2 separate regions of the Homo sapiens genome follow, and region 1 is linked to region 2. Evidence: fine-mapped expression QTL. Tissue or cell type: whole blood. Region 2 holds a variant in brackets; the other region holds the start of a gene. All regions are shown on one strand. Distances are from middle to middle.

What was found. PIP is the estimated chance that this variant, and not a neighbour inherited with it, causes the effect.
Region 1: it holds the start of LINC00921, and the variant in region 2 is fine-mapped to the expression of LINC00921 in whole blood (INTERVAL, PIP above 0.99).

Annotation. Positions count from the first base shown.
Region 1 is chr16:3,260,039-3,268,140 of GRCh38, reverse strand. LINC00921 (long intergenic non-protein coding RNA 921) reads right to left here and starts at 4,373. Exons shown (of 2, transcript NR_033904.1): 1 at 2,373-4,373; 2 at 574-1,015. RefSeq lists enhancers at 3,393-3,462, 3,613-3,712, 4,153-4,312 and a silencer at 3,953-4,132.
Region 2 is chr16:3,349,983-3,358,084 of GRCh38, reverse strand. OR2C1 (olfactory receptor family 2 subfamily C member 1) reads right to left here and starts at 2,196. Exons shown (of 1, transcript NM_012368.3): 1 at 779-2,196. The coding sequence starts at 2,144. The coding sequence ends at 1,206. The variant C/T (reference allele first, on the strand shown) is at 3,340.

The DNA.
Region 1 (8,102 bases), 90 kb after region 2:
GTATACATGATGGTGCATTCCTGTAGTGTCAGCTACTCGGGAGGCTGAAGTGGGACATTACTTGAGCTGGGGAGGTCAAAGCTGTAGGGAGCTGAGGCCAGGCACGGTGGCTCACGCCTGTAATCCCAGCACTTTGGGAGGCCGAGGTGGGCAGATCACAAGGTCAGGAGATCGAGACCATCCTGACTAACACGGTGAAACCCCGCCTCTACTAAAAATACAAAAATATGCTGGGCGTGGTGGCAGGCGCCTGTAGTCCCAGCTACTCAGGAGGCTGAGGCAGGAGAATGGTGTGAATCCGGGAGGCCCAGCTTGCAGTAAGCAGAGATCGTGCCACTGCACTCCAGCCTGGGTGACAGAGTGAGACTCCATCTCAAAAAAATAATAATAATAAATAATTAAATTTAAAAAGCTGTAGGGAGCTAAGCCATGATTGCAACACTGCACTCCAGTCTGGGTGATAGAGCGAGACCCTGTCCCCAAATAAATAAATAAACATACCCACCTCACATGAGGATAGTGAAGTCTAGGAAGAAACACCTATTACCTTGTATCCAGCATTGTTCTTGGTGCTTTGTGTGTATTAGCTCATTTAATCTTCACAACAACTCTAGAACCCCCATTTTACAGTTGATAGAAACAGGGACAAAGAGGGTAGGTATATCACTTGGCCAGCGTCACACCCTGCTATGAAGCACTCACATGAGGCAACGTAAAGCACACACAATACTTAGCACCTATAAACTGCATCAATTAAAGGTCATCCACTGCAGTTCCAAAGCTGTAATTTTTGGTATTTTGACATCCCCACTTCACAGACAGCCTTGGAAATATTTTCTGTGGTTTTTGAACTCCAGTTTTAGCTCTGACTTACACAGTCGTTTTCTCCTAACTACTTCCTGCAGCATTAAGAATTGTTTCCAGCTGCTGGTTTCTGCAGAGGATTGTCCTTGGAGCGTGGGGTGTCCACTGTGGTTCCAGCCGCAGCCCTGGTGCCCACACATGAAGATGCCCTCTACAGGACAGAAAGAGAAATACCACCTGATGTTGGCTGGGATATGGGCACTGTCTTTGTTCCAAAGAACCAAAGCTTTTCTTGGCAAATGGCCTGTCAGTCATTTCAGTTTATCTCAACTGCATTTTTAAAATTTCAGTTTCTGCTCTGGAGCTTCAGAGGAATTGAGACATGAGACAATTATGCCCTAAAGAACAGTCTGTCTGCATAAATGTTATGCCTGCAGTGTGTGTGTGTGTGTGTGTGTGTGTGTGTGTTTGGAGATAGGTCTGGGACGTGTTTCCTTCGGTACTGGCTCAAGGTTCCTTATTTGACTTGCTAATTTAAACTTATTCTACTTTGGAAACCTCGAATATTTTTTCTCTATGGGCAGAGTCTGCTTTTAAAAATCATTTGTTTAATCTTCTGCACCCCAGTGAAACAAAGTCTCAGCTAATAAATTTTTTAATTTTTCTGCTGTAAAAGTAATGGAGCAAAATAAGAAATTTCTCCTCTAACATTTAGCTTGCCATATTTTATTTTCCGTTACTATTTCACAATGAGCATATATTTGTGGACTATGTTTCATGAGTCATAAAACTTTAAAAATGCTCATTGAACGCCGGGCATACTGGTTCACGCCTGTAATCTGAGCACTTTGGGAGGCTGAGGCGGGCAGAACACAAGGTCAGAAGTTCGAGACCAGCCTGACCAACATGGTGAAACCCCATCTCTAACTAAAAATACAAAAATTAGCCGGGCGTGGTGGCGTGCGCTTGTAATCCCAGCTACTCAGGAGGCTGAGACAGAAAATTGCTTGAACCCGGGAGGCGGAGGTCGCAGTAAGCCCAGATCATGCCACTGCACTCCAGCCTGGGCAGCAGCGTGAGACTCCGTCTCAAAAAAATAATAATAAAATAAAAAAATAAAACGTATAGATGACATAGAGGGAAAAGGCCAACTTCTACCCCCAATTCTACTCTTGAAAGGTAGTCATATTTATTTCTTGCATTTCCCTCCAGATACTTAAATTTTAACATTTTTTTCTCTTATTTACAAACATGGGATCATGCTATCTGCACTGTAGTGCAAATGTGCTTTTTCCACTGAATAATACATAAACCATCTTTGCACATTAGCACACAGAAATTCACCGCACTGTTTTCAGTGGATGCAGTGTAGTCCAAGGAATGGATTCACCAAAACTTACTCAGCTATTCAGCCAGTGCCCTGGTGACAGACATTTAAGGGGTTTACAGTTTCTAACTAACTGGCAAGTGTGGCAGGCAGGGAAATGATCTAGGATGATTACCATCATTTGTGTAAGAAAGTGCCCCTGAGAACACCATGAAGGTGAATACAGCCTCGATATGCTTACCTGAAGACAGTAGTCTCGATGGGTAGGACTTAAATCCAATGTAGGAACTAGAAAAACAGACCATCTAGCTGGGTTTCCAAGCTTTTTTGTGGGCTGCAATACACTTGGATCAAAGGAAATCTTTCTTGAAGGTTAAATATGTAAAACAGTTAAAAAGTAGTGGCCGGTCTGGCATTAGTTGGGAGAGGGGGGAGGGGGTAGGAGGGAAGGAGGGAGGTCTATGCCTATGAAGCTCCTGAAATAAGAAACCTGGGCCGGGCGCGGTGGCTCACGCCTGTAATCCCAGCACTTTGGGAGGCCGAAGCGGGCGGATCACGAGGTCAGGAGAGCGAGACCATCCTGGCTAACATGGTGAAACCCCGTCTCTACTAAAAATACAAAAAATTAGCCGGGCGTGAAAATTAGCCGGGCGTGGTGGCGGGCGCCTGTAATCCCAGCTACTCGGAAGGCTGAGGCAGGAGACTGGCGTGAACTCGCGAGGCGGAGCTTGCAGTGAGCGGAGATGGCGCCACTGCACTCCAGCCTGGACGACAGAGCGAGACTCCGTCTCAAAAAAGAAGAAAGAAACCAGATGCATGTGCCTTCTTTGAGCCAAACCATTACCTCTCTGGCTCACAGCATGTTACTAGATTTGTTCAAAAGGAAAAAACAGAAGTTTCAGCAACCGTACTCTAGGGTTCTGAGGGGGCAGAGTTTGAGAATCCTTGCTCTAGCCCGCCTCTGCTGATTATAAGGGAGAAAACGGCAGTGCTGCTGTTAGGCTGATGTATCTGTTCCTTTCACAGCTTTGGTCATAACTGGTAATTACCATTTACTTGTTCTCAGCCTCCTTGGAACAGCGATCTTGCCTGACACGTGCACCCTCGCACGTGGCACAGTAAGTGGGACACATTAGGCACTCGGAAAATATTTGCTGTAAACATGAAAGAAGGGCGACAGGCTAATAAAGTGTGGAAGGGTTTTGGGGTCAGCACAGCCCCGGGACGTCCCATCCCCGTGGGCCGCGGGCCGCCCGGAATACGACGACTCCACTTGCCGGCGCTGCTCCCGGGATACCAGCGACAACAGCGGCTCAGTCCCGGCAAACGGCGCGTGGCCCCTCCGGCGAAAAGCAGCTATAGGCTGTTGCGGCTGCCAATCAGACCAACAGAGCCGCGACTCGGAGACCTCTGGGAGACGTGGGCCCCCGCTAATCCGCCCTCCAATTGGCTCGCGTGCTCCCGGGGCGCTCTGGGAGATGTGTTTCTGGGAGTGTTCCGCGCATGTGCATGCGTGAGGGCGGGGCGTCGGGGTCGGGCTGGAGTGTCTGTCGCGCCTTATGTGGGCCCCTCGGCAGAAGACGCACTTTCGGCAGAAGCCGCACTTTTGGCAGAAGCCGCCCTGGGTCCTTTCCCTCCCGCAGGCAGGCCGGGACCCCGGCGGGAATTGCGTGCAGGTCGGGTCTCGCTTGACCCCAGCGCCTCCCCGCGTCCGGGCACACTGCGGACAGTTCCTTTTTATTCTCTACCGCTACTTCCTCTTTATCTTCTGCCGCTCTTTCCACACGTCTCCTCCCCCAGGCCGCTTCCCTTTGGGGCGCCGGGCCAGGGAGGGGCTGCCGGACCGGAGACCCCGGACTCGCGCCGGTCTCCGCTCGGGCGTGGGGTCCGTGGGGCGTCGGCGGGAGGGGTCCTGGAGGAGACGGCTGTGCCGGGGCGGGACCCCCTGTCCTCTTAACAGACGCGCCCCTGACAGTCGTGCCAGTCGCCGCCCTGGGCTTTGGGGACGTCCGAGGACGCAGCTGGCGGTTCCTCCCGCGGTTCCCGGCACTGTTACTTCCCCGAATTCCCAGAACAACCCATTTGATAGGAAATGGAAACTGAGAAAAATCGAGTAATTTACTCACGTCACACGGCCACCAGATATTTGAATCTCGTATTTCCCACCACTTCGTGGCTTCCAGGCTCATAAACAAGAAGTTGCAAAACAGGGTGAGGCGTGGGAATGACAGCAGCACGGGGCGGGGAGTGGAAGGGCGGAGCACCTTAGAGGGCAGGATTCAGCAAACGGAACCTCAAAGGAAACAGTGTCAGTGCTGCTGCTTAGTTGGTAAGAAAACAAAGGGCCGGGCGCGGTGGCTCACGCCTGTAATCCCACCACTTTGGGAGGCCGAGGCGGTCGGATCGCGAGGTCAGGAGTTCGAGACCAGCCTGACCAATATGGTGAAACCCTGTCTCTACTAAAAAATACAAAAATTAGCCGGGCGTGGTGGCGCGCGCCTGTAGTCCCAGCTACTCAGGAGGCTGAGGCAGGAGAATCGCTTGAACCCCGGAGGCACATGTAGTGAGCTAAGATCGCGCCACTGCACTCCAGCATGGGCGACAGAGTGAGACTGCGTCTCAAAAAACAAACAAACAAAAAAAGGGAGTAGCTGCCTTCCAGACACAGTTTTGTTATTTTTCTGCCCCTTTCACTAGCCTGTCAGCCCTTTGGTGGCCGGGGATTGCGTGTCCAAAGCCTGGCTGCTAGTCAGGTTCCTATAAATATTGGTAGGACAGAGCGTATTAAAGTTTTTATTTTAAGATTTTTAAGCACAAGAAAGTTGAGAGAGTAACATGAATACTCACGTACTCTCCACCTAGATTTAATAATCAGAAAAAATTATGTGTGTAGGCCTTTATTTTTTACAAACCCTCTTGTTTAACGTTACCGCCTTCCAAATGAAGCTCATTGGTGAGTGGTGTGGGGATCTATTCAGAGCCCCATGACTGCAGCCCTTCAGCAGGGTTAAGGCCACCTGCCACACCCCACTTTGGGAAGCTGGCTTCCTCTCCTCTCCCTCCGTTTCCAAGCTGCTCAGGAGGTGCCCTCAGAAAGATCAGTTACAATTAGTGTTATCTGCGTAGGGGACTGGGCAGCAGATCTCATTGATCTGGGCTGGGATCGGCAGGTGGGTTGGTCCAAGTTGAGAGGGAGATCCTGCAGAAGCTCTTAGCTGCTGCAGGATTCAACACTAACTCCTTAAGGTAGCAACAAGGGCCCTTTGTAAAATCTGGCCAGAAACAGGTATCTTAGATGCATCTTCACACCCGCCAGTATCCAGTCTACCCTTATCATGTCAGCCCTGCTTTCAGAATCACCCAGAATCTGACCCTTCTGCCTCCACAGTGGTTCAGGGCCCTGCAGTCGCTTTCCTGCATTGTGACAATAGATTGCTTTCTCCTCTCTGTTTCCACCTTTCTCATCTCTTGTCTCTTATGGAAGCCAGAGTGTTCTCTTTTCTTTTCTTTCTTTTTTTGAAACAGTCTCACTCTTTCACCCAGGCCAGAGTACAGTGGTGCGATCACAGGTCACTGCAACCTCCGCCTCCCAGGTTCAGGTGATTCACCTCAGCCTCCAGAGTAGCTGGGACTACGCGCACATCACCACCACACTCAGCAAATTTTTGTATTTTCAGTAGAGACGGGCTTTCACCATGTTGGCCAGGCTTATCTCGAACTTCTGACCTCAGGTGATCCACCTTCCTTGGCTTCCCAAAGTGCTGGATTATATGTGTGAGCCACCGCGCCCGGCCCAGAATGTTTCTTTTAAAGCGTAACTCCAATTATGTCACTGCTCTGCTCAAACTTTCCAGTGTCCCCTCATCTCAGAGTAAGAGCCAAGTCCTTGCTGTGTCCTGGGAGCCCTGCTACTTGATAGGGGACTCCAGCTCCCTCTCTAACCCCTCCATCCACTCCTCCTCCGTGCCTCTGCTCCAGCCACCACTCTTCCTCAAACACTAAGCACAAAGTTACCCCTTTTGCACTCTGTAAATAGGCAAAGACTGCTCATCCTCAAAATGAATACCTGGCTTACTCCTCTTCCTTTGGGTCTCTGTTCAAGCACAAAAGCCTTCTTCAAGTGCCCTATTAAAATATGAAACCAGGGGGCACGGTGGCTCATGCCTGTAATCACAGCACTTTGGGAGGCCAAGGCGGTTGGATCACTTGAGGTCAGTTGTTTGAGACTGGCCTGGCCAACATGGTGAAACCCCGTCTTTACTAAAAATACAAAAATTAGCCTGGCATGGTGGTGTGAGCCTGTAATCCCAACTACTTGGGAGGCTGAGGCAGGAGAATTGCTTGAACCCGGGAGGCAGAAGTTGCAGTGAGCCAAGATAGCACCACTGCACTCCAGCCTGGGTGACAGAGTGAGACTCTGTCTCTAAATAAATAAATAAAAATAAAAAAATATGAAACCAATCCCCTGCACTCACTAACCCTATTATTCTGCTGTTTTTTCCCCCAACTTATCACTCCCTGATACATTGTGTATTTGTTTGTTTATATCAATTCACACTTTCCTATAAGAATGTGGGCTCTTGGCTGGGCGCAGTGGCTCATGCCTGTAATCCCAGCACTTTGGGAGGCCGAGGTGGGCAGATCACAAGGTCAGGAGATCGAGACCATCCTGGCTAACACGGTGAAACCCCGTCTCTACTAAAAATACAAAAATTAGCCGGGCGTGGTGGCAGGCGCCTGTAGTTCCAGCTACTCGGGAGGCTGAGGCAGGAGGATGGCGTGAACCCGGGAGGTGGAGCTTGCAGTGAGCTGAGATAGCACCACTGCACTCCAGCCTGGGCAATATAGCTAGACTCCGTCAAAAAAAAAAAAATGCGGGATCTTCTGAGCCAGGCGCAGCAGCTCACGCCTGTAATCCCAGCACTTTGGGAGGCCGAGGTGGGTAAATCACTTGAGGCCGGGAGTTTAAGACCAGCCTGGCCAACATGGTGAAACCCCGTCTCTACTAAAAATACAAAAATTAGCCAGGCGTGGTTGTCGGTACCTATAATCCCAACTACTTGGGACGCTGAGGCAGGAGGATCGCTCAAACACTGGAGGCAGAGGTTGCAGTGGCGAGATTGCGCTACTGCCCTCCAGCCTGGGCGACTGAGTGAAATTCCATCTCGAAAAAAAAAAAAGAATGTGGCCTCTTCTGAAGGGCATTTATATCAGAAAAAAAAGAATGTGAGCACTGCAAGAAGTTTTTTTCTGTTCAGTTCTGTATCAGTAGTACCTAGAATAGCATCTGGCATACAGCAGGTGCTCCAAGAGTAAATGAATGGCCCTGTGGTGCCTCTTCCTAGCTAGACATGTGTTCAGTATGTCAATTAACCCATCTAAACAGGGTGGGCAATTGTCCCAATTTCCCCGGACTGTGGTCGTTCCCAGAACTAGGCTTTCAGTGCTAAGACTGGGCAAATTGGGTTTTGCTCCTAGACAAAATGTGTTGGTCACCCTACCTGTAAGCCTACATTTCATCATCTATGAAAAAATAGTTGGCTGGTCACGGTGGCGCACGCCTGTAATCCCAGAACTTTGGGAGGCTGAGGCGGGCGAATCACAAGGTCAGGAGTTCAAGACCAGCCTGGCCAACATGGTGAAACCCCGTCTCTACTAAAAATACAAAAAATTAGCTGGGTGTAATGGCGGGCACCTGTAATGCCAGCTACTCGGGAGGCAGAGGCAGGAGAATCGCTTGAACCCGGGAGGCGGAGGTTGCAGTGGGCCATGATCTTGCCACTGCACTCCAGCCCAGGTGATAAGAGTGAGACTCTGTCTCAAAATAAATCAAGTAAATAAATAAGTAAATACTATATACCTCCTTTATCATGATGGTTTAGGGGCACGGGACTGATACTCCCTTAGAAGTTAAGCTAATTGTGAAAGACTTTTTTTTTTTTTAAATACGGAATCTTGCTCTGTTGCCCAA
Region 2 (8,102 bases):
AATATAGGCATAAGGGAGAGGGTAAACAAGATGATGGAGAGATATATGGATGGAAAGTATGGACAGATATACTACATTATTATTATTGTTATTATTATTATTATTGAGACGGAGTTTTGCTCGTTACCCAGGCTGGAGTGCAATGGCACGATCTCAGCTCACCACAACCTCTGCCTCCCGAGTTCAAGCGATTCTCCTGCCTCAGCCTCCCGAGTAGCTGGGATTACAGGCATGTGCCACGATGCAAGGCTAATTTTGTATTTTTAGTGGAGACAGTGTTTCTCCATGTTGGTCAGGCTGGTCCCGAACTCCTGACCTCAGGTGATCCACCCGCCTCGGCCTCCCAAAGTGCTGGGATTACAGGTGTGAGCCACTGCACCCAGTGGTATACTGCATTATTAAGAAGAGACAGGCCAGGTGCGGTAGATCACACCCATAATCCCAGCACTTGGGGAAGTCAAGGCAGGAAGATTACTTGAGGCCAAGAATTCTAGACCAGCCTGGGCTGTTAACAGAGTGAGACCCCATCTGTAAAAAATAAAAATAAAAATTAGTTAGGTGTGGTAGCATGTGCCTATAGTCCCAGCTACTCAGAAGACTGAAGGATTGCTTGAGCCCAGGAGTTGAAGGCTGCAGTGAGCTAAGATCATGCCACTCTACTTCAGCCTGGGCAACAGAGCAAGACTCCAACTCTTAAAAAAAATGAAGAAGAGACAAAAAGAGGTAGGCAAAGATAATGACAGATAGGGTAAAAACATGAATTGTTTGGGTCTTCATATGAAGTTAATAATACATGGCTTGATTTTATGGAATTATAGTAACATTATGTAAGATACTGCAAGTGGAGGTGCTTTGCTTAGAAAAGTACAGAATTCTGCAGAAATATAAGGCATATTAAATAACATGTGGGCAACAGAGACAGAGACAGTGAGACAGGTCTGTCACAGGTCAATAACCTCTGAGCCCTCAACAACATGTCTCCCCTGCTATCGGTAGTCCACAGTAGGATTTTTGGTAAATAAGTGTAGAACATTACGAATAACACTAACCATGTTCCCAACAGCTTAGGGCTGTCAGCTTAGGGCTGTCAGGAACATGCCTTGGTTTTACCGGAATTAGTATTCCTCATGTTCACCTGGCCAGAGAGAGTTAATGAGAAACGCATGTAGAGATGAAGACGCAATAAATAACGAAGGAGTGTTCTCTCAGCCAACTTCTCTTCCTTTCCCCAGCAACCTCCTCAGTGCGCCCTTCACTTCCATGTTCCGCAGCGTGTAGATGAGGGGATTCACCATGGGTGTGACCAACGAGTAGAACAGGGAAATGAACTTGCCCTGGTCCTGTTTGCTGTTCTTGGCCGGAAGCAGATACCCATAGCTGGCTGAGCCATAGAAGAGGAACACCACCAGCAGATGGGAGAGGCACGTATTGAACGCCTTTCGCCTCCCCTCTGCAGAGCGGATTTTCAGCACTGCCTGAGCAATGAGGCAGTAGGAGATCACGATGATGCTTAGTGGGACTGCAGTGAAGAAGGTGCAGACACCATTGAGCACAGCCTGGTTGAGACTTGTGTCGCCACAGGCCAGTTTGATCATGGCAGGCACCTCGCAGAGGAATCCCTCCACCCTCCGGTGCCCACACAATGGGAGCTGCAGAGTGAATGTTGACTGGATCACAGAGTTGCCCAAGCCACCCAGGCAGGCAATCACAGCCAGCAGCCAGCAGAGCTGGGGGTTCATGATGGCGGTGTAGCGGAGGGGCCGGCACACTGCCACGTAGCGGTCAAATGCCATCACCACCAGCAGGATGCACTCGGTGGCCCCCAGCCAAAGGAAGACATAGAGCTGGGTTATGCAGCCACCATAGCTGATGGTCTTGCCTGGTCCCCATAAATTGATCAGCATTTGGGGGACTGAACTAGTAGCGAAAGCAAGGTCCAAGGAGGAGAGGTTGCTGAGGAAGAAGTACATGGGTGTATGGAGCCGGGCCTCCAGGCGGGAAAGCAAGATGATGGTTGAGTTCCCAAGTAGGGTCAGCAAATAGGAGAAGAGGATGGCTATAAAAAAGATCATCTCCAGCTGGGGATGGTCTGATATGCCCATCAGAACAAAGCCCTGCAAGGAGCTATCATTCACCCCGTCCATCACTGGTTGTCTTCAGTCACTTGATGAATTCATTTAGCGCAAGCTGCTGGAAGAAAAGTCAAGAAAAAGCTGTTGGATGAGGTGGATTTGCATCAGGAACGGTCTAATAGTTCTCTGGGATCCATAGTTAAGTAACAACCTATTTTTTGTTTGTTTTTTGAGACAGAGTCTCTCACTGTCACCCAGGTTGGAGTGCAGTGGCACAATCTCAGCTCACTGCAACCTCCTTCTCCCTGGCTCAAGCAATCCTCTTGTCTCAGCCTCCCAAGTAACTGTGACCACAGGTGTGTGCCACCACATCCAAATAACTTTTGTATTTTTTGTAGAGATGGGGTTTTGCCATGTTGCCCAGGGTTGTCTCCAACTCTTGGGCTCAAGTGATCCATCTGCCTCAGCCTCCCAAAGTGCTGGGATTACAGGCATGAACCACTGCACCTGGACTCCAACTTACTTTTTAAGATTGCAAGCTTTTTTTTTTTTTTTGAGACAGAGTCTCGCTCTGTCACCCAGGCTGGAGTGCAGTGGTGCAATCTCGGCTCATTGCAACTTCCGCCTCCCAGGTGCAAGCAATTCTCCTGCCTCAGCCTCACGAGTAGCTGGGACTACAGGCATGCACCACCATGCCTGGCTAATTTTTGTTTTAGTAGAGACGGGGTTTCACCATGTTGGCCAGGCTGGTCTCGAACTCCTGACCTCGTGATATGCCAGCCTCAGCCTCTCAAAAAGCTGGGATTACAGGTGTGAGCCACCGTGCGTGGCCTAGATTTCAAACTTCTGTTGTAATCCCCATCTACTGTTGGTTACACACCGAATGGAAAAGTTGATTCCATCAGAATGTCAGGTATGAGCTAACACGGAAATGAAGGAAGTGCCTCATGATGACAAAACCAAAAGACCCCAAGAACTGAAGAGCCCTTCAGTTCAGAACAATGGCTATGACGGGATAGAGAGAGTTGACCATTAGAATTAGATGTGAAAGTTCTCAAAAACTTTCAGTCAGACTGAAATTTCAGTCAGGCATGGTGGCTCACACCTGTAATCCCAGCATTTTAAGAGGCTGAGGTGGGAGGATCTCTTGAGCCCCAGTGTTCAAGGCAGCAGTGAGCCCCTGTACTCCAATGCCTGAGTGACAGAGGGAGACCCTATCTCTTGAAAACAACAGCAACAACACATTTCCCCAGCCAAGATTCTGATA[C/T]GCTCAGGGAAGGGGGGAAGCAGACACATTGTATTTGGAAAAGCTCCCCAGAATTTTCTGTTAAATTTCCTCTGCTCTCTTCTACATCCCTCCCCTCTGAGTTTTACCTCAGTGCTGGATCTAGAAAGATGATGTTTGAGGAATAACATGATGAATCTATAAAGTCACAGAAATAATGGAAAGAGTAGATACAGACTTATGCTCCAAATACAGAAGCTGGGAATGTACAATTTAAGAGGAGGTCAATGTAGAGCAAACAAAACTTCACTTAAGCTTAAATAAGTTTAGGTGGAAAAGGCAAAAGATATAAACAGAGGTTACACAAAAAGGGGTTAAAATAGTTAATGGGTATTCATAATTAGTAAGGGAAATTAGAAGATTTACAGAGGAGATCCCTCTTTTGAGGTATATAACTACTGTGTCCACGTCTAAATCATCAAATAATTCTTAACATCTCATGAGACCGGGTACAGTGGCTCACGCCTGTAATCCCAACACTTTGGGAGGTCAAAGTGGGCAGATCACTTGAGGCCAAGAGTTTGAGATCAGCCTGGCCAACATGGTGAAACCCCGTCTCTACTAATAATACAAAAAATTTGTCGGGCATGGTGGCGGGCGCCTGCAGCCCCAGCTACTCAGGAGGCTGAGGCAGCAGAAACACTTGAAACAGGGAGGCGGAAGTTGCAGTGAGTTGAGATTGCACTACTACACTTCAGCCTGGGCAACAGAGCTAGACTCTGTCTCAAAAAAAAAAAAAAAAAAGAAAAGAAAAGAAAAACAAACAAACAAACAAAAAACCCATCTCATGAACAAAAAAATCAGCTCTTGTTAATAATGGGCCAATCACCATCCCCTTTCCTTGGCCAGGATCTCAACTTTTCTGAAGATCATAAACCACAGCCCTTCCCCTTCCTTCCTTCCTTCCTTCCTTCTTTCTCTTTTTTTGAGATGGAGTCTAGCAGTGTCACCCAGGCTGGAGTGCAGTGGCGTGATCTCAGCTCACTGCAACCTCTGCCTCCCAGGTTCAAGCGATTCTCCTGCCTCAGCCAACCAAGTAGCTGGGATTACAGGAGTGCACCACCACGCCTGACTAATTTTTGTATTTTTAGTAGAGGCGGGGTTTCACCATGTTGGCCAGGCTGGTCTTGAACTCCTGGCCTCAGGTTATCTGCCTACCTTGGCCTCCCAAAGTGTTGGGATTACAAGCATGAGCTACCATTCCCGGCCTACTTATTCTTTTTTTTTTTTTTTTTTTTGAGACGGAGTCTCGCTCTGTCACCAGGCTGGAGTGCAGTGGCGGGATCTCGGCTCACTGCAACCTCCACCTCCTGAGTTCAAGCAATTCTCCTGCCTCAGCCTCTCAAGTAGCTGGGACTACAGGTGCACACCACCATCCCCAGCTCATTTTTGTGTTTTTAGTAGAGATGGGGTTTTGACCATGTTGGCCAGGATGGTTTCGATCTCTTGACCTCGTGATCTGCCCGCCTCAGCCTCCCAAAGTGCTGGGATTACAGGCGTGAGCCACCGCGACCGGCCTACTTATTCTTTTCATCTAGGACTTAAGAGAGCTGAGGAACTGAGTTACTAACCGGATAATCAGCTCATCTTTCTTTTCAGAAGTTCTTCCTGAAACCCATTCTACTACCTCCTGCCAGTTCAGGTGCTTGTTCCCTTGTGTCCCTTTAGGGCAAAGAAATAGACAGGGCCGGGCGCAGTGGCTGACGCCTGTAATCTCAACACTTTGGGAGGCCGAGGCAGGCAGATCACTTGAGGTCGGGAGTTCGAGACCATCCTGGCCAACATGGTGAAACATGTCTCTACTAAAAATAAAAAAAAATTATCCGGGCGTGGTGCTACATGTCTGTAATCCCAGCTACTCAGGAGGCTGAGGCAGGAGAATCACTTGAACCCAGGAGGCGGAGTTTGCAGTGAGCTGAGATAATGCCATTGCACTCCAGCCTGGGCAACAAGAGTGAAACTCTACCTCAGAAAAAAAAAAAAAAAAAAGAAAGAAAGAAACAGACAGAAAGACACTGCTCATCTTCTTCCAAAGTTGTTTGGTCTGTGGGGGGCTGGTATTAGACAAAGTGAACAGGGATTTTTCCCCTCCCCAAATCTTAGAATTCAAGAACTAGAAATGGGGGAGTTTGAATCTTAGAAAAAGTCAATTAAGGATGAATGAAAGAAAAAAATACATAGTTAATAGTAAATTTATGTAAATTATTACTTCTAAGAGACATCAGTAAGTTTAAAAACATTCAAACTCATAAGTTTAAAAACATTAAAATTTAAAAACATTAAAACATCATAAGTTTAAAAACATTAAAATTTGGCCAGGCATGGTGGCTCGCGCCTGTAATCCCAACACTTTGGGAGGCCGAGGCGGGTGGATCACGAGGTCAGGAAACCAAGACCATCCTGGCGAACAAAGTGAAACCCCGTCTCTACTAAAAATACAAAAATTAGGCGGGCGTGGTGGTGGGCGCCTGTAGTCCCAGCTACTCGGGAGGCTGAGGCAGGAGAATGGCTTGAACCTGGGAGGCGGAGCTTGCAGTGAGCCAAGATTGCACCACTGCACTCCAGCCTGGGCGACAGAGGGAGACTCTGTCTCAAAAAAAAATTAAAATTTAAATTTAACAAACACAGATACAATGCATGATTAAGGAAATCTAGGCCACTCGGAAGGGACTTTAACTTCTGATGCTTGCATCAGGGAAAACAATCAAGCTCCTTTAAAATGTATTTTCTAATTCTGCTGTCAAAGAAACAATTCTGGCTGAATGGACCATGGGCTGAGCCAAGGTGGCAGTTCTAATAAGCCCAGGATCTTACAAAATACGAAAAAAAAAAAAAAAAAAGACTAAATGCTTGGCAATACATCAAATAAGTACAAAAATTCAACAGCACAAATTTAGACTGGAAAAGGCTAGAGAAGCACAAGTATCCCAGGAGTAGCTCTCAAGGTTACATCTCTGCAAGCTGAAGGCAACTTGCAATGGGTGTCCCAGAGAGAAAAATGAACAAAAGGAGGTTCCATGTAAGGGCTGGGGAGTAAGCTTTCTGCTGTGTACTGTATTAGCAATTCCTTATCCGAGGGTCTTACCTGATTTGCCTAGCATTTTAAAAAGGATAATGGAGTACACAGATTTTTAGAGAACAGGGAGAAGGAGGACATAGGTCCTATGAAGTATGGCCAAGACGGGAGACTTGCTTAGGAGGAAATAGTTAAAGGGAGAAGTGGGTTTTTTACTTCCAATTATTTTTTTCTCAGACCATTCTCCATAACAAATTTTCTTCCAATTAATGTCTTCACTATTATGAGGAGATTTTAAAAATGTGTGCTTCATAAGCAGGTGCTCTCCTTCTCCTTCTCTATGGAAAGCAAAAAAAATAGGGAGGCTGAGGCAGGAGAATTGCTTGAACCTGGGAGGCAGAGGCCGTGGTAAGCCGAAATCATGCCACTGCACTCCAGCCTGGGCAACAGAGCAAAACTCTGTCTCAAAAAAAAAAAAAAAAAAAGAAAAAGAAAAAGAAAAAAAGAAAAAAGACTTAAATTCAGAGCAGGAGAAATTACGATAGGGCATTTTGAGGTGTTGGTGTGATAAAATATTGATTAAATTCTTTGGCAAGAGAAAAATAAGGTATGCTTAGAGATTTGCCTGCCTGAAGGCACTGAATATATCTTAAGTTCTTTTTTTTTTTTTTTTTTTTGAGTCAGGGTCTCACTGTGTCACCCAGGCTGGAGTGTGCAATGATAGCTCACTGCAGCCTCAACCTCCCAGGCTGAAGCAATCCTCCCGCCTCAGCCTCTCAAAGTGTTAGGTTCACAGGCATGAGCCACTGCACCCAGCCTATACCTGAAGTCTTTTATGATCCTTTTCTGCTTGAGGACTCTGTTCCCAGAACAGAGTTGTGCATGCAAAAGGGCTTTTGTTTGTTTGTATGTTAAGAATTTCCCAGCTTCTCTCCTGGACCATTCCAGAGATGACTTTTGTGAAGGGGTTCTTAAAATTGTTGTTTTAAAACTTCCCTTTGGGGCCGGGCACGTGGCTCAAGCCTGTAATCCCAGCACTTTGGGAGGCCGAGGCGGGAGGATCACAAGGTCAGGAGATCGAGACCATCCTGGCTAACACAGTGAAACCCCGTCTCCAGTAAAAATACAAAAAATTAGCCGGGCACGGAGGCAGGCGCCTGTAGTCCCAGCTACTCGGGAGGCTGAGGCAGGAGAATGGCGTGAACCCGGAAGGTGGAGCTTGCAGCAATCCAAGATCGCGCCACTGCACTCCAGCCTGGGCGACAGAGCAAGACTCCATCTCAAAAAAAAAACACAAAAAAAACAAAAAAACAAAAAAACCAACCAACCAACCAACCAAACAAAAAATTTCCCTTTGGGCTGGGCGCGGTGGCTCACGCCTGTAATCTCAGCACTTTGGGAGTCCGAGGCAGGTGGATCATCTGAGGTCAGGAGTTCGAGACCAGACTGGCCAACATGGGAAACCCCCTCTCTACTAAAAATACAAAAATTAGCCGGGCGTGGTGGCAGGCGCCTGTAATTCCAGCTGCTTGGGAGGTTGAGGCGGGAGAATCGCTTGAACCTGGAAGGCGGTGGTTGCAGTGAGCCGAGATCTTGCCATTGCACTCTAGCCTGGGCGACAGAGAGACTCCACCTCAAAAAAAAAAAAAAAAAAAAGATTCCCTTTTACAGTTTGAGTATTTTTCCTTCCTGACTCTTCTTGCTGACAGAGGTCACAGACCTCTGTATA